3 separate regions of the Homo sapiens genome follow, and all the other regions are linked to region 2. The links come from fine-mapping of genetic effects on gene expression. A gene starts in region 2. Each other region holds a variant in brackets. All regions are shown on one strand. Distances are between the middles of the regions.

Evidence for each region. PIP is the estimated chance that this variant, and not a neighbour inherited with it, causes the effect.
Region 1: its variant is fine-mapped to the expression of LINC02884 in whole blood (INTERVAL, PIP 0.99).
Region 3: its variant is fine-mapped to the expression of LINC02884 in whole blood (INTERVAL, PIP 0.99).

What each region holds. Positions count from the first base shown.
Region 1 is chr1:112,232,355-112,243,267 of GRCh38, forward strand. LINC02884 (long intergenic non-protein coding RNA 2884) reads right to left here. Exons shown (of 2, transcript NR_183466.1): 2 at 1-2,545. Among named protein-coding and RNA genes, the nearest start is that of LINC02884, 120 kb to the right of the region's middle. The variant A/G (reference allele first, on the strand shown) is at 4,692.
Region 2 is chr1:112,357,287-112,365,286 of GRCh38, forward strand. It overlaps LINC02884 (long intergenic non-protein coding RNA 2884), which reads right to left and starts at 3,321. Exons shown (of 2, transcript NR_183466.1): 1 at 3,076-3,321. It also overlaps the pseudogene TXNP3.
Region 3 is chr1:112,245,919-112,256,831 of GRCh38, forward strand. The region is part of intron 1 of LINC02884 (long intergenic non-protein coding RNA 2884); the gene reads right to left. Among named protein-coding and RNA genes, the nearest start is that of LINC02884, 110 kb to the right of the region's middle. RefSeq lists an enhancer at 5,357-6,556. The variant G/C (reference allele first, on the strand shown) is at 6,107.

The DNA of each region.
Region 1 (10,913 bases), 120 kb before region 2:
GTGGCTTTTATAATCAGAAAAGAAAGAGTGAAAGAAATAAGACAAACTTCGGTAAAAGCTGCCCCTTTCTTTTCTCTTCCTGTAAGAATAAATAAATCATCTTAGGATAACAATTAGAAACTGAATGTGCCAGAGGGAATATGTGTCTGATGTGTGTGTCAAAGAGAAAATTTAGCAAATTGTAAATCTGTAAGAAACTAGAACTTGGCCCTCATGGCTTCAGTTTGGACTGGTTTGAATTGGGTTGTCAATTTAATTGCTACTAACTGGGTTCTCACTTTGCAAACAAACAAACAAAAACCCAAAACTTCTTATTTAATTTGAGAGGACAAAGATCTCTATCTTTAGGGTTAACACCCTGCCTTCAGCCTCTTCCTCCACCACACTCATATTTTTCTGGGGGTCCCCTCTGTTGTTCTCCAGAGCAGCCCATTCAGCCCCCAAAGAATGTGCATAGATTATTTTGTCACAGGAATGGCTCCTTGGAGCACGCAAATGCACCCTGCAGCAGGTGCTAGCTCGCAGAAGGTTGAACACCAAGGGGGCCAGGCCTGCAAAAGGGAGGCACCAATGCAGGATATGCAAGTCCCCAGGGTGGCAAAGCCTTTTCATATTCTAGACACCAGGGCAGGGTGGAGAGGAAATCCAACTCAGAGAAGGATGGCGAGTGGTGTGACTGCAGGTGTAGTACAGAGGGTTCACTCTTAGGAAATCCACCTGAGGGGAGGCAAGGGGAAGCCCCAGGAAAGGGCCGGGGTGCTGGAAATCTGAGAAATCTGAGCTGAGAGGCAGGCAGGGTCTGTTTTCATGCACCACATGCCCAACCTAACCTGGGCCTTCAGGGAGCTGTCCACACCCTGTCCACAAGCCATGTGTTCAGGACTTGACCCACAAGCCACCCAGCCTTCTGTACCCATTCCACACCTCATTCCATATTCTGGTCTCTCCATGTTTATTGTCCCTGCTTCCTTGGTCCCTTTCCAGTTCTCTCCTATAGCATACCTTTCTTACTAAAGAAGTAACTCAAAGTAATTCATCATTCTTCTTTACTAGGGATAAATCAATGCTAAGAAGTGGTTAAAAAAAAAGAAAGAAAGAAAAAGAAAGAAAGAGAGAGAAAGAAAAATGTTAAAAAAAAAAAAAGAGCTCCTTAAAGAGATTTTCTTCCTGTGTAGTGAGAGGAATTGAAAGAGCATTGAATAAAAAGAGAATTGTACAGATAAACAGTGGTATACCAAGGATGGAGGATGGGGAGAGTTGTCCATCAAGGTGAGGAATATTTTATCACTGACATTGCTTAGAACTGTCAGTGCATGGTGATAATAAAAAGCAGACCGACTTTTTCTTGTATCTATTATTGTTTTAAAATTCTCCATGACATTGCACATCGTTATTTCTTGCATTCAAGGCAAAGCACTCCAACCTCCTTTGGTACTGACCAGCTCTCTGAGTCTTTCTGTGTTCCAAGTGAATCTGCACATTGCAATCATTTTCATCAATAGACTTTGATTTCTCAATCCATAAAACGGCATCCACAAAGCAGAAACAATGGAGGCCAGGGGAGATTTAGATATCATTTATTCCAATCCTCTCATTTCACAGTGAAGGAGATAGGTGGAGATAGGTGATGTGACTTGTCCAAGTTGGTGCCAGAGCTAGGTCTTAACCTCAAGTCTCTGATTCTCTACATCCAGGATTGTATCTAGTACAGAAAGGGGCAGAGCTAGCTCAAAATTTTACAGTTATTTTTAGGTCCCTTTCCCAATTCAACCAAGAACTTTCTCTTAACTACTGAAGGCTCTAATAAAATAATGTGATCTGTGCCTGAGCCTGAAGACAGCTGTCTCGGAAGAGGATCAAAATCCCTCCCCTTACAGTCACCCGAACATGGACTTGATGGCTCCCCTGGATTCTATTCATAGAATGTTCCTGCATTATTGCAATAAAAAGTGCAAAAAAATCCCCTTTCCCAGGCATGTTGCTTCCTGCACTGCTCCAACTTTTATAGCTTCTTCAATTGGCCACTCCATGTAGCTTGGGGCATTAATTACTCTGCACCCTTCATTTGGAAGCAGAGCTTCTCTAAAACCTTCAAGTTTTTCTCAGCTCCAGCCATTGCAGCAACCCCAGCACCTGGGAGCCATGAGGTCATTGCCACCTTTCCAGGTCCTACTGATATCTTAGAGATGCAATAGTGGAAAACATTAGCATATCTGGAACTCAGTTATGTTTTTATTCTTCCATCCTTGGCCAGAAGAGTTTCTTTTCCCAAACCCCTGTGATACAGAGATGGGCATGATGGCTATGAGTGCTCTCAAAAACAACCAGATTTAACATCAGCTAGAATAGAGGTTCTAGAATGAATGAAGCAAATCAGCTCCTCCCCCACTGCAGAAATCATGACCTGGTGTGCTCCACAAGCAGGCTGATGTTTTTTCCAGTTGTCCATTATTTTTAGATTATCCATGTCATTCTTCTCATTAGCCCAAGTCATTGAGAGTTCACAGTTGGTATTGCTGAATCATTGCCCAAGTCACTCAGCCTCCTGATTAAAAACAGATCAAAAAAGCTTGTTAGTTCATCATTACTTATAGAAGAAAGGCTCAACTCCGTAGCAGGATGTTCAAGCCTTTCCTAAACTGGCCCCAACCAACCTCGCCAGCTTCATCACCCATCATGACTGTAAAGCTCTTGTCTTTCCTTCTCACACTCCCACTTTCCATGTCTAATGCTCACTCATCCTCCAGGATTCCGCTTAAGTCATCTTCTCCAAGAACTCTACTTTGACAGCATCTAGGCCCTTACTCAGAGCTCCCTTACCTCCATCTTAGACTTGTCACTCTGCTTTCATGTTTCCTTGTCTGTTTCCTCCACTAGACTGTGATCTCTAGGGGCGCCACTGCATGACAAATGTGTGACTGTGAACAAGTCTTTTACCTTAAATTTCAATTTCATCATTTGTAAATGAGAATAAGAATGGTACCCTCTCCAGCAGTTATCAGGAAGAATACATGGGTTAATACATATAAAGCATTTAGTAAGCTCTCAATAAATATTTGCTATTATTATGATTAGTATTCAAGGCATAGACAAGGTTCATAATTCTTGGTCTTCCCAATATCTAAGTCAACACCTGGCACACAACAAATACTCAACAATTACTTGTTGAGTAAATTAATAAATAATAAATATTCCATCCAAACCTATTTGCCGTTTTCTAAACACTCCATGCCTTTTATGGCTCTTTGTCCTTACACACTCTGTTTGGAATATCTGTTCCTCCCTACTCCCCTTACCCCCATCCCTTTTCTAACTTCAAGACTAAGATCAAATGTCACCTCCTCTTTTCAACACCCTGGGGTCCTGGAGCAGATTTAACTGAGTTTGCACAGAACTTTGTTCATGCCATTGTCATCATACTCATGGCATTATCTTACAATTATTATAATGGTTTGCTTACAATACATTAATTTCTCCATCTCTACAGTGAGCTCCTCTAGAACAATGACTGATTCATGTATCCCCTAACCCAGTTTCAACTCAGTAGCTAGCACAGTGCTGGCATACATTAGGCATCTAATTGACATAGAATAGGTTCCCCAGTGAGTCCAGAGGTTGATCCCGCTGTTTCAGAGATAGTGAGATAAAACCTAAGGACCTTTCCTGGAGAGGCAGGGAATATGGCTGTGTGCTTGGAGCAACACTGCCATTTCTTTATTTCTCCTGCTCACTACGTAAACACCCTAACAACAGTAAAGCAGTCATTTAAATGGGAAAGCAGCATCATCCGCTATACTATTATACTAACACATCAACTGCTTTCATTTTTCTTTGTTCCCCTAAAGTCTTTTATTTATATGCATGCATAAGTTTGCATGGTTGCACTCATAATGTAGACACATTTTAGCATATTGCTTTTTTACTTAACCTTCTCTCATAACATATTTGCAAGTTACTATACTGTCTACAAAATGATTCTGGCTGTATAATATTCCATTTGGTGGTTTTAAGTTACCACTATTAAAAATAATGCTATACCAAATATCTTTTTGCACAGAACTTTTCTTCTTCTAATTGGTGGGATTTTTTTTCAAACACTCCTTTCTAAGACTTTGTAATTTTTCTGGAGCCTTGACAAAAGAGCTGACTTTTTTTTTTTTTTTTTTTTTTTGAGATGGAGTTTCGCTCTTGTCACCCAGGCTGGAGTGCAATGGCGCAATCTCAGCTCACTACAACCTGTGCCTCCTGGGTTCAAGCGATTCTCCAGCCTCAGCCTCCCGAGTAGCTGGGATTACAGGAACTTGCCACCACGCCCAGCTAAATTTTTTGTATTTTTAGTAGAGACAGGGTTTCGCCATGTTGGCCAGGCTGGTCTTCAACTCCTGACCTCAGGTGATCCACCCACCTCGGCCTCCCAAAGTTCTGGGATTACAGGCGTGAGCCACCGTGAACAGCCAAGGGCTGACTTTTTCTTTAAAGTCACAACAAACAAACAGTGAAGTACAGAAGGTCAGTTAAGGCAGACCCCTAGAATAATAGTTCTCAGTCTCTGGACAGGCTTTAGGATCCAGAGGATTACTTGAGGATCTTTTGAAACTACCAATGTACAAGTTTCACCCCAGATCAACTGAATCAGAATCTGGGAATGGAGCAATAGAATGTTTTAAAAGCTTACAATGCCAGTGAAAGAC[A/G]CTTGTCTAGATTCTACCTGTCTCTACCAGGTCAAATAATTAGCAAGAGCATCATGGCAAACAGTTTAATGAGTCCTAGTTCTAGAGCAGAGACTGATGTCACCTGCTGGAGGTGGCCTCTCTGGACTACAAGGATTAGTGATATGCAGAAGGTCATTGGAGACTCATGGGACAAATCTGACTGGTCTCATAATCACTCACTCAAGAAGTACGTTTTTGTTTTTTTTAGACAGGGTCTCTCTCTGTTGCCCAGGCCAGAGTGCAGTGGCACAGCCACTGCAGCCTTGACCTCTCAGGCCCAAGTGATCCTCCTGCCTCAGCCTCTTGAGTAGCTGAGACTACAAGCATGTGCCACCATACCCAGCTAAGTTTGAAATTTTTTTGTAGAGACTGGTCTCACGATGTCACCCAGGCTGGTCTTGAACTCCTGGGCTCAAGCGATCCTCCCACCTTGGCCTCCCAAAATGCTGGGATTACAGGTGTGAGGCAATGCGACTGGCCAAGAAGTACTTATTGATTGCCAAACTGAACTAAACTACATCAGAGTTTTGAATTCCAGTCAAACATATCCCATGGCCTGCTCTACATTCTTGCTTAAACATAAACAGACATCTTGAACTTGACGTATTTAAAACCTAACACCTGATTTATCCTGATCAAACCAGCTGGTCCAACAGTCTTCCACATCTCAATTAATGGAACCTCCTACCCTCTGATTACTCAGGCCCCAAACGTTGGTATCATCCTTGATGCCTCTCCTTCTGTCACATTTTACATTCCAACCCATCAATGAATCCTGCAGGTTTTCCCTTCAAAATACATCTAGAATCTAACCACTTCTCACCACCTCCACCCACTGTCTCCCTGCCCCAAGCCACCACCATCACTTGCCTGAATTATAGCAATAGCTTCTGAAAAATTGTCCCTGATTAACCCTTGCCCCTTGCAGACTTTTCTTCACATAGCAGCCAGAGTAATTTTTAAAAACATAAGTCAAATTACACCACTTATCTGTAAAACTTACAGTGTCTTCCAATCTCACTCAGAGTATGATGTGCCAGTTTGACTGAGCCATGGAGAGCCCGGATGTTTGCTCAAACATTATTCTGGGTGTGTCAGTCAAGGTGTTTCTCAATGACATTAACATTTGGATCTGTTGATAGTAAAGCAAATTGCCCTTCTCAGTGTGGGTGGCCTCATCCAATCAGTTGAAAGCTGACTAGAACAAAAGGGCTGATCCTTCCACAAGTAAGGGGGACTCCTCCTTCCTGACTGCCTTTGAGCTGAAACACTGGCTTTTTTCCACCCCTCAGGCTTAAACTAAAATATTGGTTCTTCCCAGGTCTCCAGCCTGCCAGTATGCAAACTAGAACTACACCACTGAGTCTCCTGGGTCTCTAGGGTGCCAACAGCAGATCTTGGGACTTGTCAAACCGCATAATTGCATGAGCTAATTCCTTACAATAAGTCTGTTTATATATACACCCTGTTGATTCTGTTTCTCTGCAGAACCCTGACTAACACACAGATCCAAAGTCTTTACCAAGACCTCCAGGGTCTTATATAATCAGACCTCCTATTACCTCTCCTTCTCCTCTCCATCTTCCTCCTCATTTCCTTCCTCTCCCCTTCAAATGCTGTGCTCCCACAATGTTAGCCTCAAATGAGTCAAACATATGTCCCCCTTGGGACTTTTGCACCTGCTGTTCCTTCTGCCTGGAAAGCTCTTCTGCACAGCTCACTCCTTCACTTGCTAAAGGTCTCTCCCAGCTCACTGATGTCTTATTGGAGAGGACAACCTTGACACACGCCTCTGTCCCATATAAAATAGCAATCCATCCCCATATGACATTCCTAAGTCTTCTTCTCCTGCTTTAATTTTCTCTGTCATGCCCTTGACTGCCTGATATATTAAATATTTGTCTGCTTACTGTCTTTTCCCACACTAAAATGACTCAGACAAAAAAACACACAGATAGAAAAACAAGCAGTAAAGGAGGATAAAGCATGAGAAGGCATTGTCTCAAATAGGGGAGTTAGGAAAGGCCTCCTTGAGGAAATGAAATGGATACAAAGCCTAGGTGAAGTGAGGGAGAATCAGGCTGAAAATGGGAAAGAGAGGCTATGAACAGGGCACCCCACTCATATCTCCTTGTCATTCTTTATTCAGGTAAGTGCCAATGACGTCCTTCTGAGAACACCTATCACCCCTTCCTGAAGGCTTTCCTCAGCCTGCACATGGGGCAGGTCAGATGCACGGGGGCGGTGGGCAAGGATTAATACCCCTCAGCCAACAGCCCTCAGCAAATGATGGCAAGCAGTTAGAGAATAAGGACCATGGATCCAGCAAATGATGGTGAGGAGTTAAAGAATAAAGACCCTGGCTTCTTCACCCTTTCTATGGGACAACTCTGAGTCATGTTCAAAACCATCTCCCGGAGTCCCCAGTGGGACTGAGCCCACATGCCCACAGGGTTAACCTGCTCCAGGACACATTGTTTTGGCTTTCTTCCCTTCTGTACCTGCCAGTGCTTCCTGGGTTCAATGTCCCCTGGATTCATTCACATTGAAATCCTCATCTCAGAATGCAGCCTAAGACAAAAGAGAGCTCACCTGGTTGCTGATGGCTTTTTAGCCTTGAGATGGGGAGTCTGTGGGAGTGACATGCAGTGGGAAGGAGGCCTCTGCCTGGGGGAGCTGTGTGCAGGGTGGACCGCAGGCGCAGGGAGTGGGGTGCTGGAGCTGTCTAGGGGAGGCTTGTGATCCACACATCTTTCACCGCCCCACACAAAACAGAATGCAATATTCAAATCAGGCTGAGGTCCTGGAGGGAGAGAGAGGCTACACAGGCCTGGTGGTGAATCTGCAGAAGCAGATTAACCCAATCTGCATACTAAACAGCATGTAAATTACGTTATTTCAACCCATAAGTTTAGACATGTCCATAGGAATAAAAATTTATGACAGTGATAAGATGTATGGTTGGCGAAAATAAGCTAGCCCAAGCAAAATATGCTAAAAGGGCTATGGAAATTCTCCAAATTAAGTGAGTGAAGCCAGCCCCAGCCTTCAGCCCGGAGGTGGGGAAGCTGACTCCTGGCCCTCAGGGCACTCTGCTGCCTCCAGACACTACAGGAGAGGGAGAGAATGGTCAGTGCTCATGCAAAGATGGGGGAGCTGCAACCCCTGGGAAAAGGGCTCTGCCTTTGGAAGGGGTCACCTTTACAGATGAAGCAGAAATCATTCCAGGATCCAGGGTAAATTCTTTCAATAATGGTAAATAATAATAGTAGCTAATATTTTTGAGGACTTAGTATATGCCTAGCTTACTTCTGTGCCCTCTATGTGTTCTATTCATTTAATTCTTATAACCACCCCATGAGGTAGGTATCATTTTGTATTCCATTTTAATATGAGGAAACTGAGGCTCAGAAGTTAAGCTTGCAGTAAGCAATAGAACTGAACTTGGGCAGCCTGGCCCCAGAGTCTACGTATTTAACCATAATGCTCTACTGCTTCCATTGAATGTTATGTGGAAAAGAACTTTGAGAGTAATTTATTTCATCCCTCTCACCTTACAGATGAGAAAAATTGAGGCCAAGGAGATGCAGAGACGTGCTCAAGGCCATGCAGCTGGGATAGCAGAGCCAAGATCCTGGCTTAGGTTTTCAGACATCATGGTCAAGGTCTTTCATGTGCCTAGGGCACCTCCTCCCTGTGTCACTTGCAGTGGTCTTGGAAGGCTTAAGGGGCTGGAATCAGGTGAGAACTACCAGCCTGCATTTTCTTTCCTGTATGGCCCTGAGTAACAGACAGAGAAGGTCTGTCTTTAGTAGATTTGCATAGGGCAGAGCAGAAGAAGTTTAGTTTCTGCTCTCAGAAGTGTTCTTTCATAGCCAGAATACTCTACCCTGCCTGTCTGGGGTGAAAGAACTCCACAGAATGTATACCAACGCTTGCCTCAATGCCAGGCTCCTGTTCCAAGTGTCTTGACCCTGTCACTTGGCTAAATTCTCATGATTCCCAAGGGCCAAGACTTTTTTGGCCAGGGTTCATTCAGTTGAAAGTGATCAACCCAAACTCAAACCAGCTATGCCAAAGAGGAGGTTTCTGGAGGGATTGGGAAGCCAGGGTGGAGCTGGCCAGGTCCAGGAGGACATGCTGTGTCTTGAGGACTTGATGCCTCCATCTGCGTTCCTTGTGCCTGGGAACACACACTCAGGGAGGTGCTCTCCACACAGTGGGAGAGAGAACAGCCCCAAGCCCTCATTCTGAGCAGGGAGCAGAGACTCCCTCTCCCAGAGCCGATATGTCAAGTCTATTTATTCTTTCAACAGGATGCAGGGAGCCCCTATCGTGGTCAGGCACCAGGGATACAGCCATAAACAAAACAAATGTAAATCCCATGCTCTTATGGAATAAAACGTTCTATTGGAAGAAGGGTGGAGAACAAATAAAAAGCTAAATGAGTAGGTAAAATGTATAGTATGCAACATAGTGATAATCACAAGGAAAATAAAACAAGGAAGGGAGATAAGAGTGCCAGGAGTTATGTTATAAATTGGAGGTAGAGGGTAGAGAAGAACTCACCGAGAAAGTGGCTGGCATGGGAGCAAAGAGCTGAAGGAGGCAAAGGAGGGTGCAACGCAGGTATGTGGAGGAAGAGCATTTCAGGCAAAGGGAACAGCCTATGCACAGAGCCTGAAGTGGAAGTATGCCTGGCATGATGGATGCACAAAGAAAGGATCAGTGTGACTAAGCAGAGCGAGAGAGAAGGAAGTAGAGATTACAGGATCAGAGAAATAATGGGCGTGACTGGGAGGCGCATTATACCTTTGGCCACATAGAAAGGGAAATGGGTTGTCACTGAAGAGTTTGAGGCAGAGAAATGACATGACCTGACATGCATTTTAAAAAGCTCACAATAGACGTGGCACGGTGGCTCACACCTGTAATCCCAGCACTTTGGGAGGCCGGGGCGGGCGGATCACGAGGTCAGGAGAGCGAAACCATCCTGGCTAACACGGTGAAACCCCGTCTCTACTGAAAATACAAAAATTTAGCCAGGCGTGGTGGCAGGCGCCTGTAATCACAGCTACTCGGGAGGCTGAGGCAGGAGAATCTCTTGAACCTGGGAGGCGGAGGTTGCAGTGAGCCGAGATCGTGCCACTGCACTCCAGCCTGGGCGACAGAGCAAGACTTCGTCTCAAAAACAACAACAACAACAACAACAACAACAACAACAACAAACTCACACTGGCTCCTGGAACTGACTTGACTGTAGGGGGCGTGACTGATGCTAGCAGACTATTGTAGTAACCCAGGCAGAGATCATGGTGGCTTCCACCAGAGTGGGACAGTGGTAAGATTTGGAGCATGTTTTGAAATAGAGCCAAAATGACTTAATAATGACTGGGATGTGGATTGACAGAAAAGTGTCCAGAATGATTACAAGATTTCGAGCCTGAGCAATAGGAATGCTAGAATTATCATCAACTCAGATAAGGACGACTAAGAAAGGCCGGTTTGGGAGGTGGGGAAACAGTCGAAGAAAACCCACTGACACCGGCAGGATTCCATGCCTACATTGAGAGGAATCATTGTGCAAGATGGATGAATGGGGTACTCTGGTTGGCCAGCCTGTGTCAAGTGCCCTCCAATGTAGGAGGCAAAGCCTCATGATTGACAGCCCCATGGGATGGGAAAGTTATAATTCCTCAAAGGAAAGGTATACCTTTCACACAGATAGAGAAGCCACAGAGAGAAGCTAGGTGGCTTGTCCAGAGTCACACAATTTCTAGGAAATAGGAAATTTCTCTCCTGCTTCTCTTTACCCACATGCACAAAATCTGGCTGACTGCAGGCTGAGTCCCATCACCTGATATCAGTAAGAGCCTGTATGGTACACATTAGAATGAGCTCAAGTTGGCAAAATACACCCACAGGCACTAAACAGGGCCATCGCCCGTCAGAAGCAACAGCCATCTCTGAATCCTCAGGGTCTGGCACAGTGGTAGACACATAGTAGGTGCTCCAGAAACATTTACAAACGAATGAACAAAGCAATGGAAGCCCCACCGGGCTAGCCACTGGAAAAGTGGTTCTTTTGCTCAACTTCTTCCTAGGCTACAAAGAGATATATGCTATGGCTCTACTCTGGCCCCTCCCCTGCCCACTCCCCAGCAAAATTCTCTTTGAGAAAAATCTGTAGACATACAGAAC
Region 2 (8,000 bases):
CTGCGTTTATCTTCCTCTGTCACTCTATCTCCTTCCATCTTCGCCTCTTACTGTCTCTATAACTCTCTGTGTCTCTCTCTTGCTACTACCCAATAAAGATTTAGAGGCTGGTTCCAGCAGCTGAGAACGGCGATATTAATTCCAAGCTTGTTTCCAAACACCACAGAGGTCTACCCGGGTTAATTAGTTGTGCAGGCTTTTCTACAAGTAAGCGAGCCGGCAGGGTTTTTTACAGCTCTGTCACTGTGTTTATTTGTTCGTTTTCTGTTTTGTTTGGAAATACATTTATCTGACAATAAATAACATCCGCCATGACTAGAGCCGATAAAGGCAATGAACAGCCCCTTCAGGGCCTTGGGGGACATAGTGAGAAAGCTTCAAGGTCGGGTCCCCCTACTCCAAGGGGCACTACCAGCCCTTGAGAAAGATGAAGAGGATGTGGGTAAAACCAGTGGGGGGAGGCTAGAAGAAGAGATAGGATCAAGGGCCATGGACATGGCTAAAAGTGAAGAAAGGAAATGCCCACTGAGGAACAGAGCCCATAGCAAGGAGTCAGGAGCCTGAGGCTCTTGGCAAATGGCAGTAAGGGTACCCTTTTGGCATGACAGGGGGGAGGCAGAAGATTTGGCTGTGGATCCCAGTTCCAGCACATACAAGCTGTGTAACCTCAGACAAGTTGCTAACCTTCATGCCTCCGTTTCCTCACCCATAAAACAAGAGTGATATTAACACCCTCTGCTCAGAGTGGTTGCAAATATATCTAGGAGACAATGAAAGTAAATGCACTATGCAAACAATAGAGATTCTCATTTTTCAGATGAAAAGTATTTCTCAGGAGTATATGGTCAAGATTCTAGGCCTCCCTGGGAAAAAATTAATCTAAAATGTTAGAGCAGGATTTGTCCTTGTGTCCAAAGGCTCTGTGCTAATGACTTCAACATGACCACACAGCTTGGCCCATTTGTAAGTTGACCACAATCTCACCAGGGCTAGTTCAGCTCTTGCACAAGCCCCAAATGGGAAGATTCCGTTAGTCTAAACAAAAAAATATTATGGGGAGTACTTCACTGTGAACCACATATACTTATTTAAGGCTTTCAGGGTAAGGGATGAGGAGAGGTGAGGAGGCAGAGGGATCACAGTATGAAACCAAGTAGGCAGAACAGAGTATCGGTAGAGAGTAGAAGCTCCGAGTTCAGCGTGCCTCTTTACATCACTTTCTGACTATAAACCTTAGAGATGCTATTTAACATTTCTATCTCAGTTTTCTCATCTGTAAAATGGGGACAGTGACGGTACCTAGCTCATTGGATTGTGGTGTGAGGAGATGAGATGAAGTATGTGACGTGCTTGGGACAGTAGATGGCACATGGAAGAGCTCAATAAACACTAACTATCCTCAAAACACATGAAAACTACTCAAGAGACATTTCACTTGCGGGCACATGAACTTACTACCAATTGAGAGTCTCAGCGCTGAGGTTGTGCAGTGAAGGAGCATGTCAAATGGTGGGAATTAATCAAGAAATCCTTTCAGGAGGAAGGACAACTTCAACACAGGTTAAAAGAGAAGAGACAGGATAGCACTGCCTGCAGCTGTGCATGTCCTAGCGTGTGTCCCCATTATGCTAGACCCACAGCCAAGAGGAGCCAAGCAACCCCACAGAATTACCAGCAAGCCGCCAGCAGATGGAGCCAGCCACCTCCACACACTGCTGTTCAAGGCACCAGCACCCTCTAAATGGACCGGCACCCAGCCCACGTCCAGTCAGGAGCAGGACTGAGAGAGATCAAGGAAGAGTCACCCTTCACGCCCCTGTGGAGATGATAAGGGTGCTTTCCTGCCCCAGTGTGAGGGGAGAGGGAATCCAGACTCTCCCTGATGCCTCAGAGGCACAGCTCACTGTCAGAGTCCTTGCCATCCTGGAAGCCTAGGACTGCAGCCCAGTGCCCTTGTTGTTCACCTACCCCACTGTGGGAAGGAAAAGCAGGATGCCTGATGAACTTACTTTGAGGGCTGGGACTGCACTTGAATGTAGAGACTGGTATCCATCTGAGTCTGGGAGATTCTGAAAGCAAGAGGCCCACTACAGTAGCCCATCCGGCAGGGCTCGAAGGACCCTGGGGCAGCATGACTGGGAAGAAGATGGGGGCAGCTCTCCCTTCCCAGGTCTGTGGGGCCCTTGAAGGATTATGGGAGAGGATTCCTGCAGGCCCTGTGGCTCTGCATGGAGATGCACGGAAGTCAGTGGAAGGGCAGGAGCTGAGGGTTTGCCCAGGTACCCATGGCCAAGTCAACAAAGGGTCGTTGGGCACCTGTACCACTGTTGAGGCTAAAGAGAGGTGCATCTGTGTGAGGGAAGGAGGGGGAAAGGGTGGTGTTCAGTGATGGAGGAGGGTGGGGTGAGATCTTCAGCATCTAACAGAGCCACAAAGAACAGGAAGGGGAAAAGGACACTCCTGTAAAGAGGTCTCTTACTCTCCATCCCTCCTCTCTGCCCAAATACAGATGCTGAGGCCTCAAAGAGGGAGGAGGTGAGGCATCTTCAAGCCAGGCCCTACTTCCCCTCCACTGCTCCAAACAACCAGGACCCAACTCTCACTTGTGCTGGAGGGAAGGGGAGAGAAGAGCTCTGAATCGAGTTTGCAATGAAAGTTTTAAAAATATAAGAGGCTGAGTCTTAATTACTGGAATGAGACTGTTATAGTAACCGAAAGTGGCTGAAAAGTTATGGAACCAGACCAAGATGTCGTTAAGGGAGCGGCTCCTCAGCAGGAAAGAGAGATCTGGCACAGCACAGCCAGGGCAGTTACTGGAAGAAATAAAATCTTTTCATGTTTATACCCCAACGAGTTGAGACTCCCCAGTGAATCAGGCACACAGGAAGTACCTGGGCCTTGGACACCAGTGTCCCTGTGGTCAGAGTACCCCATGAAGGATGATGTCACGCGGAGCACAACCTCCTCTTCCCATTCAGGTGCTGTCTCACCTCCCAGGGCAAGAGAAGCAGGAGGAATTTGTCCTCCAGCTTTAATGAGGCACTTAGAAAGAGGAACAGGATGGTTTCTTCTTACCGGAATCCTCGATGGAATGCAGGCGCAGGCAGCTGAAAGAGATGGTGCAATTTGCATACTTCTGGTGGATTCCAGGAAGCATCAGCCCCATTTCACCCTAACAGCCAGTGGACTCTGCCTGGGAGGGCCAACAGCCAAAGAGAGCTTTCAGTCTCCAGGCTGAGAAAGTCAGGAGAGGAACAAGTCAGGGGACACCACCAGCCCTGGGACAGCGTGGCAGCATATCCAGAAGATCAGGAAACTGCCGCAGAGGCTTGGTCCCCTACTGGAAATTGAAAGAAAATGAAGTTTAGAAAGAGCAGGGTGGGAACTGGTTTGCAGAACAGAATGTTCCCTTGGCTTATTTTCATCTGGGGGAAAGGGAAGAACTAATACTTATTGAATGCCTGTGCTGTATCAGGCACTATGTTCATTCTTGTCTTATTTAATCCTCCCACAACCCTGTAAGGAAAGCATTTTCTCCATTTTACAGATGAAAAAACTGAGGCAGAGTGGTTGCCTAAGGTCACATGTTGTTGGAATTTGAACTTCATGTTTGTCTGTGTGGTAGACAGACACAGAGATGCCATGCTTACATTGCCCCTTCAATAAAGGACTCACTCCCCTGCTACCAAGAATGTTGGTTTTATTTGCCCCCAGCAATTAGTTCCTTCAAGGACCACCTGAGTTTTTAAGCCACAGTCACTCTCTTCTTAAGGCAGCCCCTAGCCAATGGCTGAGCAAGGTGGTAGTACAAAGGCCCATCCCTCTTCTACCAATGCGGAACTCCTCTAACAAGCAATTTTTGCTCAGAGCACCCTGTTAGACTGGCAGAGGCTTTGTCAAGTCTGCATCAGAAGCCAAGAGCTCCTCCTGGCCAAACTGCTTCCTCCCTTTTCCACTCACAGGTGATCCTCCCCTTTGCACTTCTACCTCTGTTGCAGCATCTAGTTCCAGAGAACCCAGTGGAGACTCCTAACAGCCTGACTGCAAAGCTTTCCCTTTTTCTGACACTTTATCTTCATTTTCACTTGTCCTTAGGTAACATTGCTGCAGTGCAGAGAGTGAGCTCCTTCTTGGTAGCAGGGGCTTCACCCCTTCCAGAAGAAAGCTACTGAAGGTTTAGTGATTAAGGCAGTTTCCAAAGAGTTAGTTATCCTTGATGATTATGTGCTCAATGCTCAAAGGCAGTTGCTAACATTCAGACTTTGAGGTCTAAAGTCCAAGTAAAGAGTCTACCCCCACCTTCTCCCTCTCCCTGACGTCAATTCCACCCCCTTAAATTGCTACAACATGGAATTAAGATATATAGTTTTATTATTTGTTGTGCTTAATGGAAAAGCTTTAGGATTTCTGAGTTTAATTTAAAAAGCAGATGGTCATAAGCAACAAAAGAAACAAATATATAAATTGGACTTCATCAAAACTAAAAATTTTGTGCTTCAAAGTACACTATCAAGAAAGTGAAAAAATAAGCCAGCACCCATAATCCCAGCTACTCAGGAGGCTGAGGCAGAAGGATCACTTGAGCCCAGGAGTTCAAGGCCAGCCTAGGCAACACAGAAAGACCCCATCTCTAAAATAATAATAATAACAAAGAAAGTAAAAAGACAAGCCAATTAAATAAGGGCAAAGAATTTGAATAAACATTTTTTCAAATAAAATATACACATAGCCAACGTGCACATGAAAAGTTGTTCAACATCATCAGTCATTAGGGTAATGCAAATCAAAACCAGAATGACACATCACTTTATATCCACTAGCATGGCTATAATTTTTTAAATGGACAATAACAAGTGTTGAAAAGAATGTGGAGAAATCGGAACTCTCATGCATTGTTGGTAAAACTGTAAAACAGTATGGCTGCCTTGGGAAACAGTTTGGCAATTCCTCAAAAAGTTAAATAAAGAGTTACCATATGACCCAACAATTCCACTCCTAGGTATATATCCAAGAAAATTGAAAACTTGTGTCCACATAAAAACTCATACTCAAATGTTCATAGAAGCATCATTCATAATTTCCAAAAAGTAGAAAGAACCCAAATGTTCATCAATTGATGAATGGATAAACCAAATGAAGTATATCCACACAATGGAATATTATTCAGCCACAAAGAATGAAGTACTGATACATGCCACAACATGGATGAACCTTGAAAACATTATGCTAAATAAAGAAGTCAGATATTAAAGCCCACATATTGTATGATACCTCTTATGTTAAATTTGCCAGAATAGGCAAATCCATAGAAACAGAAAGTAGACTAGTGGTTGCCTGGGGCTGGGAGGAGGGAAAAATGGAGAGTGACCGCTTAATGGGTATAAGGTTTATTTTAGGGTGGAATTAGATAGTGATGATGGTTTCACGACTTTGTGAATATAATAAAAATCACTGAAATGTGCAACTTTAAAGGGTAAATTTTATGATATGTGAGTTATATCTCAATAAAAACATTTTTAAGCTGCTGAGTTGAATATTTTACATTTCCCTAAGGAGACAAAACCACTTCAATTAAGGTGGCTTATTAAGTGACTTTTGACTGATTTCCTCCCCCCCACGTCCATGGTCTTTGATAATATTAAACTGCCTATCTTTGGTCTAAGAGGCTCATATTTCAGATACTTCAGGACAGAGACGAGATTAACTAAAGTCACTGAAGCTTTCGTTTAGGGGAGAAAAGAACACAGCTAGTTGTGACCCAGTGAAAAGCCAGATGTGGCATTAAGGACAATCAGGAGAACAGATCAGTCAACCAGAAAACAGAAATACTAGTCTGTCCTTCCTGTTAGAAAATGAGTTCAACATCAGGGCTTAGAGGACAATCCAAAAGACAAAGGTCCTCTGGCCAAAGCTTGGTCCAGCACTTTGGATCCATTTCCATCGGTTCTTACAGTCAGTCATCAGACCCCAACAGTCAAAGTGGTGAAGCAGAAGAGCAAGTTTGCTTTTCAGGAAGGCTCGGATGCTACAAGAATAAACTTGTAGTTGACTTCTCAGCCACATGATGTGGGCCTTGCAAAATGATCAAGCCCTTCTTTCATTCCCTTGCTGAAAAGTATTCCAGCGTGGTGTTCCTCAAGGCAGATGTGGATGATTGTCAGGGTAGGATGTTTGCTTCAGAGTATGAAGAAATGCATGCCATCTTCCAGTTTTTTAAAAAGGAATGAAAGGTGGGTGGGCTCCAGTTTTTGGAGCTAATAAGGAAAAACTTGAAGCCACCATTAATAAATTGGTCTAATCATGTTGTCTGAAAACATAATGAGCCATTGGCTATTTAAAACTTGTAGTTTTTTTATTTACCAAAAAAATGAAGTATGGAGACTGTATACCCAGCTGCCATCTGATTATAAATGACAAACAAATATTAATTCTACCCTCTAAAACAAAAAAAAGTTATCTGGCCTTATAGGAATAATTCTATCCTGATCTGAGGCCAGTGCCTAGTCCAAGTTGTGAAACTAGATTAAACCACAAACCTCAAGAAAGGATCCAAGACTACGAAGCATCACGTCTTCATAATGAACAACTGATATGGCTCATTAAGTTTATGAAATGGTCATGTCTTCTTTAAAAAAAAAAGAACTAATGACCCACACATATATATACAACTGATTTTTGACAAAATTGCAAAGGCAACTCAGTGGAGAAAGGATAACTTTTCAACAAATGGTGCTGAAATTATTGGATATCTTATCAAAAATAAAAATAAGAAGTCTCTCTGAGCATGCTCTGGCTTAAGAGGCTGGCCAAAGATAAAAAGATTAAATTAAATTAAAAATAAATAAAAATAAACTTCAATCCACACATTTTACTACATACAAAAATTAATTCAAAATAGATCATAGATCTAAATGTAAAACCTAAAACTATAAAACTTCTTAAAAAATAGAAGAAAAATTTGTGTGAACTTGAGTTTCAGGTAAAAATTTCTCAGCTAAGGCACCAAAAATACAATCCATAAAAGAAAAAAATGATAAATTGGACTTCATCAAAATTAAAAATTTTACTCTTTGAAAGACACTGCTAAAAGAATGAAAAGACAAGCCACACACTTGAAAAGACTCTTTGCAGAAGACGTTTCTGATAAAGGTCTTATGTCCAGAAAATATAACAAACTCTAAAAATCCAACAAAAGAAAGCAACCGATTTTTCAAATGAGCTAAAGGTTTGAACTGACACTTCAACAAAGAAGATAGTTGGAAAGTAAGAACATGAAAAGAGGTTCAATATAATTAGTCATTAAGGAAATGCAAATTCAAACCATAATGAGGCACCATACAGACCTATTGGAATGGCTAAAATTTTTTAAATGGCCATACAACTGTTGGCAAAAATGTGAAACAGGTGGAACTTTCATGGTACAACCACTCTGGAAGACAGTTTGGTAGTTTCTTTAAAAGTTAAACACATACGAAACATATTCCAAGGTATTTACCCAAAAGAAAAGATAGCGTAAGTTCAGAAAAGATTTGTATAAGATTCATCATAGCAACTTTATTTGTAATAGCCAAAAAATAGAAACAACCCATTTGCCCATTCATTGTAAAATGGAGAAACAAATTGTGGTGTATCTATACAGTGGAGTATTATTCAGCAATTAAAAAAATGAACTATTGATATGCAGAAAAATGTGAATGAGTCTGTAATTATGCTAAGTGAAAGACTCTTGAAAAAAGGAGTACATATTATATGATTCCATTTATATAAAATTTTTAGAAATACAAACAAATGTATAGTGACCGAAAGCATATCAGTGGTTGCCTGAGGCTGGGGGAAAGGGGCAAAGTGGGTAGGAAAGACAGATGGCAAAGGGATACAAAGAAACTCCAGAGGATGATGAGTATGTTCACTGTCTTGATTTTGGAGACGATTCTGGGGATGTGTTTTAAACTCATGAAATGGTAAACTTTATGTGTAGTTTACTGTATGTCAGTTACACC
Region 3 (10,913 bases), 110 kb before region 2:
CTCCAAGTCTGCTTTGGCATAGGTGCCCATCGCACTTTCCACTTTCTTTTTCCTGGAGAAATGGCCCTATTACCCACAGGCTGCCTGGGCTCAAGGAAACAACAGCAGGTGGCCAGGCCCTCCTGGTGTGGTCTCACACCAGGGAGCTCTGCCTGAAGAATAAGCTGCTGGTTCGATCCCAGCTGTTCTGAGGCCCCCCCTGAACTGACCCCATTTCCAGAATTGGCTAAGGGCTCCTCAAATAAGCAAATGCCTCCAGGAGGATGAAAGGAAGACTCGTGCAAAGCTTTGAAGCCTGCCATAATGCTGCACCAGCTCCTCCTCCCTGCTCAGGACATCTCCTGAAGGAGGAGATACAAAGAGAATCTGTGATGAGCAAATGAGGGACAGCCAAGGGCCAGGATTTGTAGCAACAGCTTAAGTCTCTGCTTTCTTGTCAGCCCTGATGGCTGGCAGCGAGGATAATTCTAAATGAAGAATGGTTTTCAAGGAGGAGCAAGAATCTCTCATCTGAAACAATTTGTTGTCCAAAATTGTACTGCAGAAGTTGTTTAGAAGGTGCAGATTAAGTTGTGCATAAAAATATAGTCAGCTCTTGATTATCCACATTGATGGATAATCCAAAAACAACACATACCTCGAAGTGATTTCTCTTTGGTTTCATAACACAGTATTATTTTTCCTTCAACATTTTTAGCTTTCTTCATTTAACTGTCTTCAGGATATAACCAAGGAGCTAGGGGATCTGTAACCTTCTGTTAATTACAGAATAACCAAGGTTTCAGCACCATGCCCTCCAAGGCAGGAGTTGCCTGAATGGAATTTGTAGATAAAAATACTATTTAGGAAAATGGTGAAAAAGAAGAAAAACTATTTAACATTTGTACTTCCTACACATAGACAAAGAAGAGGCAATTAAGAGCGTAGACTCTGGAGTCAGACTGCCAAAATTCAAATCCCAGCTCTATCTTTGAGTACTTTATTTAACCTCTGACAGCCTCAGTTTTCTCATCTGTAAATTGGGGTTAATAACAATAGCAATGTTAGAAGGCTGTTGTGAGGATTAAATGAGATCATCTATGTAATATGTTTAGCATGGGGCCTGGCACACAGGAGGTATTCAATGGATGTAAATTAATACCAGTAAATGTTAGTTACAACCAGCTCTCAGCAAACTGGGCAGCTCATCTCCTGCAATTGTGCTCAGTAATACCTTGTGGAATTCCCTGAAGGACCCCAGGGACTGTAGACAGTTTGCCACCCCCTCCAATCCCCCAGGGTGGGGGAATGATGCCAGGTTTCATGGGGAGAGAGGCAGCTGCAGCTGTGGACAGATACTGGGGTTCTCTGGAGAGCCAGGACAGCTGTTGATTCCTGTGTGTGCTGAGCAAACGGCCCACCATCCTATCTTAATTATCCTGCCTAATGGGGTAAGGCGATTATGATTCATGGAAAATTGGCCATTGGCAGCTTGGCTTAGGAAAGCAAACAGCCCTCAATGGCCCAGAACAAACAGCAGGTCAGGAGAAAGACTCAGGTGTGCCCAGTGAGAGGCAGCTGCCATGTGTGAAAGGGGAGGTCAGAAGGCCTTCAGCCCACTCATATATGGCTCTGAGAGGTGGGGAAATGGAAGTAGGGGATATAGAACTACCCAGGTAGAGTTGAGTGCAGACACCAGGAGAACTGCTCTGAAGCTCAAAGGTCCAGAGTTCATCTCAATCATCGCCCTGCCTCTGAGGAACCCAAAACAGCTCAGGCCAAGGTGAAGTTACAGAATAGCACTTACCTAGAGTAAGGTGACCTGAATTCTAGGTCTGGCTCTGCCAGGAACTTAATAATAATAATAATAGTAGTAGTAGCAGTAGTATTAACAGCCTCTTATTATGAACCGGATACTGTGCTAAGCTCTTTACATAGATGATCCATTTAATCCTCACAACAGCTTTATGAGGAGGATATTAGTTTTGTCCTCATTTTTCAGATGAGAGGATGAGTCTCCTATTATAAGGAAATCGCCTTAAGTCACCCAGCTAATAAGTGGGTGATCTGGGATTCAAACCAAAGTCCTTGTGACTCCCAAGTCCCTGCTTTTAACCAATCCCCTGAGCCACTCATTTCAGTGGGACAAGCTCAGTTGCTTCATCTGCAAAGGGATATCCAGCCCAAAATTTTGGAGGAAACCCCAGAACGAAAACTCTCAGAGACAGGAGCTGCTGCCTTCTGCATTCTGCCTAAGGGCATGGGGCCAACCCACTTGAGGGAGACAGAGGAGCTCAGGAGTCCAGGCTTGAAGGTTAACAATGGTGATTTTCTTTTCACATTGTTTATAGCAAGGGCTTTGAAGTGTCTCCCAGTGTTTTCACACACACCCTCTGAGGCCCGTCCAGCCCAGGCCTTGGATCATAGACAGCCAAGTGTCCACAGATGCCTTGGGTCAGGTGCACCACTGACACTAGGCTCAGGCCCATCCTGCAGCCTCTGCTCAGCCTCTGCCTCTGAGCCTAGTCTCTTTCTCTGCCTCGGGCTGCCCTGCCACAGGCCGCTCATGGACAATCAGCAGGCTTTAGATCTGGAGCCCACTTGAAGCTGCCCTAGACCCCAAAAGAAGAAGGACACTGAGGCACTGCTTCTGAAAGGGTTTCTGACTACCCTCCTCTCCTTTTCTCTACCCTCACTCCCCACAGCATGTCCAGATACAGAGGCATGAGCTGGAGAAGGGCAGCTCAGACAGTTCGGCCTGGGTCTGAATGAAGCTGGGCCTGCTCTTCTAGTTTGAGAGATCTAGCACCAGGCTGATCAGTACTCAGGTCACAATGGGACTCACTCCCCTTCCCCTGCTGTCCTCTCAGCCCTCCAGGAGCCTCAGCTGCAGAGCCAGCATCATGTGCTATGCAGACTGAGTTTTCTGAGTCTGTACACAGTCCTCAACCCTCAATCCATCATCTCTACTGCATCTAACTCATCTCTTTGTACTCTCTCTCTCCGATTTCTCTCTGCATTTACCCTGGCTCTCAACCACCAGGCCGTCCTCCATCCCCTCCTCTGTGGCAAAGAATTGGAGAGAAGAGTGTCTGTGCTGGAAGGGACCTTACAGATTGTGTGGTCCAAACCTTTCATTCTATAGGTGAGGAACTGAGGCCAGAAGGCCAGCTGGACCAAAGTCATGTGGTTGGTTCAAGGCAGAACTCTGGCTGGACCCAGGGCTCTTGCATTCCTGATCAGTGTTACCCCTTTCAGAGGGATGCTTGTCAAGTTCTGGGAGCAAGTACCAAGCCCAGGGCAGGGCTGGGCACTCAGGAGCCTCTCAACAAGGGGCTAACTGGCAGTCTGTCTTGTCTCTCCACTTGCTCTCCCTCTGGCTTGGCAGGAGCGAAACGCATTAAATAATGACTGCTGGCCTCATTGAGCCCTGCGATCCAGTGATCACTTCTATTCAGTCTCTTCCCAATATAAAGAAAAGCTCCTGAGACTCAAGTATAGATCAGGAGATGGGCTTTGTAGCCAATGAAGAACTTTAGCCCAAAGAAACAGGTCATGTGTAATTAGCCGCAGTTCCCAGAGACTGCTTCATCACCCTTTCTCCTAACTCCACTTCCACACCTACCCCCACTCCCACCCTCCACCCCCACCCTCAGCTCTCTGTCCTTGGATCTCTGAGCATTTGGATCTCTGAGCCAAGAATTTGCTTCTCAGAGAGTAATTGCCCCTGGCTCCCCCTCACTTCTAATCAACAAGCCAAGGTATTAGTTCCTGGGAGCATGATTGATTTCCAGGGACTTGGAACTTAATTACATTTTAGCAAAGTCTGTTTGGAATCCTCAGAGAAGCGAGACACTTTCAGTTCTTTGAACTTACCATGTAGGAGGGCTTCCAGCATCTCAAATATTCAATTCATCCTTCCTCAGGCCAAAAGAGGGGCATTCTATGGCTGTCAGTTTTAATTTTTTCTTACCCAAGATCTCCAACCTCTAGAGCCTGGCCAGAGGAACTTGGCTCTCTCATGCTGAAGAATTCTTCACGTGGTCCTCCCCACGCCAGCAGCTTCCCCATCATGCCCAGGGAACCATGAATCCCGCCTGGGATCCAGGTCTGTGTGCTCCTCCCTGGTCTGCAGGCAAAACCAGCAACCCACCTGCTGCATCAAGCTGGTCCCAGCCTCTGGCTCCCATCTCCACCTCACGAGGTATTCTTTTTATTATTCTAACCATCGTCATCTTCATCATTATTAAAAACTACCATGATTGAGCACTCATTGTGAGCTGGGCACTGTAAGATACCTTACACACACCAGCTTATTCCATAAAGCCCAACGAAGTAGATGTTAATCTCTTTACTTACCAGTGAGGAAATAATGGCTCAGAAAGGTTTAGCACTTTGTTCAAGATCACAGAGCTAGAATTGGGCATGTTGATCTTTCAGTGACCCCATCCCTCTGGAAAATTGCCTCAGTGACATTTTCTGCCTCAGCACATTTTCTGCTACTCTGCTGACCTGCCCTGTCCCCTGTCTCTCCAGGACCACCTCGCCTCTGATCACATGTCCCCTCTAACCCCCGAACACTTCCCTCCTTTATAAAATAGTGTAGACCAATGGGTGAGTTCAAATCTAGTTGCTGAGTATCCATGTCAGTGAAAAATGCTGCTTCATGAAAAAACAGAGATAGTGTGAACAGCCCTGAGGATGCGCAATTTGGGGAGAAGTGTGGACACTGCCACATAAATGGGCCAGCCTGTGACCTCTTCCACCCATTTCCTGAGCCTGGGCCTGAGAGTTAGAGTGTTGCCCTTGGCTTTCAAGAGTACCTAATAACATCATGAAACAAATGGGTCAAAATGAAAACAACTGGTAAACCTAGGTACAGGCTAAACAGGAATTCTTTGTGGCATTTTTGTAACTTTTCTGTAAATATGAAATTATATCAAAATTAAAAGCTTTAAAAAATAGAGTTCTGGTTCAATTTATGGATCTATTTATAGTTGTTTTTGCAATCCCAGTCTATACTGGGCATTTCACATTAATGATTTAAAGCTCAAGAACAATTTTAATAACATCTATATAATAAAGCCACATGAGATTGCTTTTGAGATGACAGAGTGTTATAAATAAGTAAATGCTGTAAGAAGCAACGTAGGGAAATGTACTTGATGACAACCACATGCTTGTCTGGCCTCCAAGAATCACATGAGCTGGATTCCTTGTCTTTCTGTGAAACCCACCTCTCAGAAGGCCTCTCACCAGAGCTGTCCCCTCCCTTGCCCTACATCCTTACCCATGCGGACTGCTGGATGAAGCCACTGCTTCCTGCCTCAGGTACTTACTCACAGCAGTTGTTTCCTCCAGATGTGCCCCTCCCCACAAATGGGTCTAGTTCAGTGTCTGCCCAAGCCTACAGGGTCGTACTGTGTCCCAAGATGTGGCTCGAGCCCTGAACCATTGAGAGTATCTCAGACCTGAACCCAGGGAAATCCACTGTCTTGCCCCATTGCACTCTGCCTTCTTTCATAGGTCCAGAGCTTGTGTATTACCAGACAAGATGCCAGTTCATTTGGAAGTTCTTGCTCGCAGACTCAGATTTTTGATCCTTGGATGGATTTTAGTGATGTTTCAAATTTGGGAGCTTCCCAGGGGTTATGGATCTGGTTAGATCAGCACAACTCTTGAGGACATATTGGGGAAGAGGCCTAATGTTTTTAGAAATAGATTTACAAACTCAGATCTTTATAGAATAGTGCAGACCAATGGGTGAGTTCAAATCTAGTTCCTGAGTATCCATGCCAGTGAAACATGCTGTTTCATAAAAAAACATAGATACTGCGGACAGCCCTGAAGATATTTGCATATCCGAGCAGCCCAATCTAGGGAGAAGTGTGGACACTGCCACATAAATGGGCCAGGCTGTGACCTCCTCCACCCATTTCCATAGCCAACGTATATATAGTGCCAAACAAGAACCCTCTGTCTTCAGACATTCTCAAAGGATTGGTAAGCCAGCGTCCAGGAGCATGATTCATCATCTTGCAGATATGTTGCTCCACCCTAGCCCTGCACAGGGCAACCCTGCCTCTTCCCCAACCCTGGCTGGGATCCAGTTCAAAGAACACATCGG[G/C]GGGTATCTTGGCTCACCAACATCTGGAGTCCCTGCAAGGGCATGTTCTAGAGATCATAAGACGCCAAACTTCTCTAGCTGTAGGCATCCCTGAAGACACTTGTTATTCTGAGAGCCACTAAGTCATTGCTGGAAGTGGAGGAACAGAGAGGAAATGACAATGATGAAAGAAAGCTGAGGACTGGAGTGGAAAAGGGAGGAGAATCCATGACTGTGGAATTTCCAAACCTTTCAGTGAGGGCAAGGAGAGCCACCCTTTTATCTCATCCCCGCCCTCCCTGCCAGCCACTTGCCACCCCCATTTACATGGACCCATTTGTCAAATGGCCCGGAAATGTCCACAGGCAGCCAGATCTGACCTTCCCCAGAGAGCAGTGAAGGCCAGGCCTGCTCAGCAGCAAAGCCCAGCTCCAACCACCCCAGGAATAAAAGTGAAAAAGGGAAATAGTACATGGCACAAGGATGTGGCAGAGAGAAGTGAGTGTCTGAGCCTACGCCCAGGAGGGAAATCACATAAAGAGATTCTCAGGAAATCACATATGTAATCCCAGCACTTTGGGAGGCCGAGGCGGGCAGATCACGAGGTCAGGATATCGAGACCATCCTGGCTAACACGGTGAAACCCTGACTCTACTAAAAATACCAAAAATTAGTCGGGCATGGTGGCAGGCACCTGCAGTCCCAGCTACTCGGGAGGCTGAGGCAGGAGAATGGCGTGAGCCCGGGAAGCAGAGGTTGCAGTGAGCCAAAATCGCACCACTGCACTCCAGCCTGGGTGACAGAGCGAGACTCTGTCTCAAAAAAAAAAAAAAAAAGGAAATCACATAAAGAGAGCACAGCCAGGGCCACCTTGAAGCCCCACTGTGGGAGATAATGATGAAGGCCTGGTGCTTGGAGCCAGACACTCTGTAGGACAAGTACCCTTGGAAAATATGAAAGTGAGGTCAATTCCTACCAAGACGGAAATCAGAGCAATTTACAATATTAGGAGCAGAACTTACTGGAAGGTGGTGGGGGCTGGCAGAGGCACCCCCAAAAGGAAAAGGTATGGGAAGAATAGGCCTTGGAATTGGGCCCAGCTGCTTTACACTTTCCAGAGATTGGGTCTAGCTGTTCTCTCATCACTCCATTCTCTATGATCCTTTTCTGTTTTAATGCTTAGCTGAAGATTCTGGTAGCTTTTTCTTATTTCCAAGTTAACTGAGCAACAGTGCTTACCATCTTTACCACACCCTCTCTCTACCCCATACACACACACATTCATTTCAAAACAGTGACCCTGGGCCTCTCCTTCCTTTTGAATAACCCTATCCTTTTCCCTCTCCTGCCGTTGTCCACAGAGCCCAGCCTTCCCCCTTCACTCCTGAGACCTCCTCCTCTCAACCGTCTTCCCAGGAGGTCTGCCTGTAACTGGGAACTGGAAACTACAGGGAGAGAGACTAGGAAACAAAAGATCGTGGAAGAAACCCATGAGTTTGAGCTCAGGAGCTGCAGGCTTTCTATGACTGGCCTGAAATGACAAAGAAGACAGCCCAGCAGCAGCTGCAGATGAAGCCCAGCCCCAAAGCTGAGGAAAGGGCCAGGGACAAGTGAGAGGGAGTGAGCTGATATGACAAATATCATCATCATTATAAATACTCCCTCTTTGATATTTACTATGTGCTAGGTACATGGCTAAACTCCCTATCTCATTTAACCCTCAAAACAGCTTTTAGGTAGGAATTTTCTCCATTTACAGGTGCGAAATCCAACTTAGTGATATAATTTGCCCAAGGCCACAAACACAAATAAGACCAAGATTAGAGAAATCTGAAGCTAAGATTGTCATTATCTGGTCCCAGTGACAATCTTAGCTTCACTACTCATCTCCCACCTCTCACCAGCAGGCGAAAGAAGGTAGATGTGGAGGAGGGGCTGTGCAGAAACCTCAGAAGGACCCCGTCCCCTGACTCCATCACCAGCTGAGGTAAGGGCTCTTCCCCAGTCCTGTGTCTGGGTCCAGGCTCCTCGCCTGACAGCACCTGAGATCAATTCCAGGTACATTTTTAACTTTTCCACAACACAGGTGGCCCCGTGGGCTGAGACTCAGGAACCCACCTCATCATCTGGTTCTGCTCACTGCCTCTTACTGTGATTTTTTTTCTTCTCCCGGCCTCGATTTATCTACCATAAAGTGGCTGACAGTTACCAGCTTCTCCTTCTGTTCTACAGAACTATCTGAGAACGCATTGAAGGTTAAAAAGAAAAGATTGACACTCTTAAGAAGAATGATGTTAGTCGTTGTTGATATTAATATTTTACCTGAACAATAGGAGGTTCCTATCCAGATCCTCTGCCCCCTTGGCTGTGGGAGTGCCATGGGGAAGAATGAGAATCAATCAATGAGCTCAAAAGTTGTAGGACTCAGAAAGGGGCCAGGTGCCCTGAAAGAGACAACCCAATAGTGCTTTTCTCCACTAGAGCAGGTCAAGACACCAAAGTTCTGGCCAAAGCCAAGTGCAGGCAGAGGAGGTCTATCATTTGGCAGGGGAAAAAAAAAATGAATAAAATATAGAGGAGGAAGGGAGAAAGGATCTTGTTTCCTATATCTAAAAATGCACCCACAAGATCAAGCTTAAAAACCTGTGTGAGCTGTTCAAAACAGACAAAAACTCTGCTTAGCTGTGATGGGCTGGGCTGGACTAAGAAGACACATTTCTAAAACATCAAAAGGAATGTACCAGTAACAGCTCACAGCCCTCAGACCCACCTTCTCTAGGAATTTCTTTCCAGGCGGTATTTCTAGGGTCTCATGCATGGGAAAGCCAGGGTTGGAGATTCACTTGGTCAACCTCCCTAGTTACCTCAATAACTAATCATCATCACCCTTGAGGGAGGTAGGAAGGATTGAGAGCCTCAGAGGAGAGAGGTTTTAATTAGCCAGCTACATGTTTTTGCACATAGACAATGATGATATGTCCAATCCTTCAACTAAAATTTATTAATTACTCTGTACCAGACATTGTGCTATACTTCTGTGTGGGTGAGAGGTGGTTAATACATGGTCCCTGTTCCCCAGGAATTCTTGACTAGTAGAAGAGACCGACACATGGACAACTAGCCACTAGTGCACATGATGCTGAGTGCAGTCATGGAGAGATGAAGAAACTGCTAGAGGAACATAGAGGCAGGACCCAAGGAGTCTTCACAGAAGATGTGACACTTGATCTGGTTATCAAAGGATGAGTAAGAATTCTCCAAGGAGACAAGAGGCATGAGAATCTTCTAGCAGAGAGAACAGCTGCAGCCAATGCAAAATCATATAAACAAGTATGAGTGATTTGGTTTGACAGGAATGTGGAATACACAGGGCCTGGTGTGGTAGGTGATGACCAAGCATCATGAACAAACATTTACTGGGCACTGGGCATGGGGCAGAAGGACCACTATGCTCTGTCCCTAGGGACAAAAAAAAGTCCCTAATCACAGCCCTTCCAGAGGGTAGTCATGTTGGAAAGAGTACTCAGTGTTTTACTGGATTCCTAAAAGGATCATTGGGTTATTTTAGCAAAGTTCCCATTTCCTTCATGAAGCTATTCTAAAATCAGAGAGATTTTACTAGCATTTGAGCAAAGAAAGATCCTGGACTCTCCTTCCCCAACCCTTGAACTGAGGCTGTGCTAGTACTGCACATGTTTACCCTCAGATACATTCTTCACCCTTTCTTTGCTCTATTCTGTGTTATGGTGAGGACAGGGGAAACTGGGCCATGCAAGTTGCATCTCCCAGATTTCTGGCTGGATTCAGCCAGTGGGAGGTACTTTCAGAGGACTAGAGGTGAGGAGGAATGGAGAAGTCAGGATATTTCTCCCTCTCCCTCTTTGTTTCAACTACTGCCTCTTCAGCAGCTGTGACTCCTCCATGTCCCACTAGACACATCTACCCTGGTTCAAGTTCACACTGAACACTTCCGCCATGGTCCCAGTTTCCACCTAATGACCTCAACCTCTGGGCTCTGGTAACATCTCACCCTCCCTTTGTCTCCCCAACCTAAGGTGGTAGTGTCTTCCAAGGGTTGCTGATTTCTGCATTCCCATACAGTTTCCTGTTTGGCTTCCCAACTCTTCTATTACTAGTTTCTTGTATTAAATTCTCACTGTTATAAATACTTAAAGTGATCTCTGTCTTCTGATTTGTACCCTGACTAACATAGAGACTGCATTTTAGTGGTCTTTGAGTCTCCCACAGCACCTAATACAGTGATTTTATGTGCTAATTTGTTAGATGAATGGATGGGCAGATGGGTGGATGGATGGATGGATGGATAAACAGATGGTTAATTAAATAGATGAGCAGTGGTATGATTGGATGGATGAGAGTTGAATGGATGTTCATAATTTAATGAGGATGTTTTAATTTCATAAGTATAAAGGAGTAAATTCTAAAAGAACTATGCAGAAAGTGATTCTAAGACATACAAAAATGGCCAGAAATTTAGAACAGCTGTGCTGCCACAAGTCAAGCCCAAAAAGAATCCAGCTGCTAGAAAAGCACAAGAAGAGAAGGAGACTTTGTGAAATTTATTTCTTGTTGCATCTGAATTGAGTCACTCATTTCTTCATTCTCTTTCTGGATCTCTTCCTATATTGGCAGAGAGTGGTGGGGGAAAGACGTGTTTATGGCAAATAGTCCTAATTTTCATCTGGCAGACATTTCCATCCCATTTATTATGCCTGAGCCTCTGCAAAATGAAGGAGATATAATGGAAAGAACCTCATCACCATTGATTCTTAGTCATGTACACTTGAAGAAGATGCCAAATGGCTAC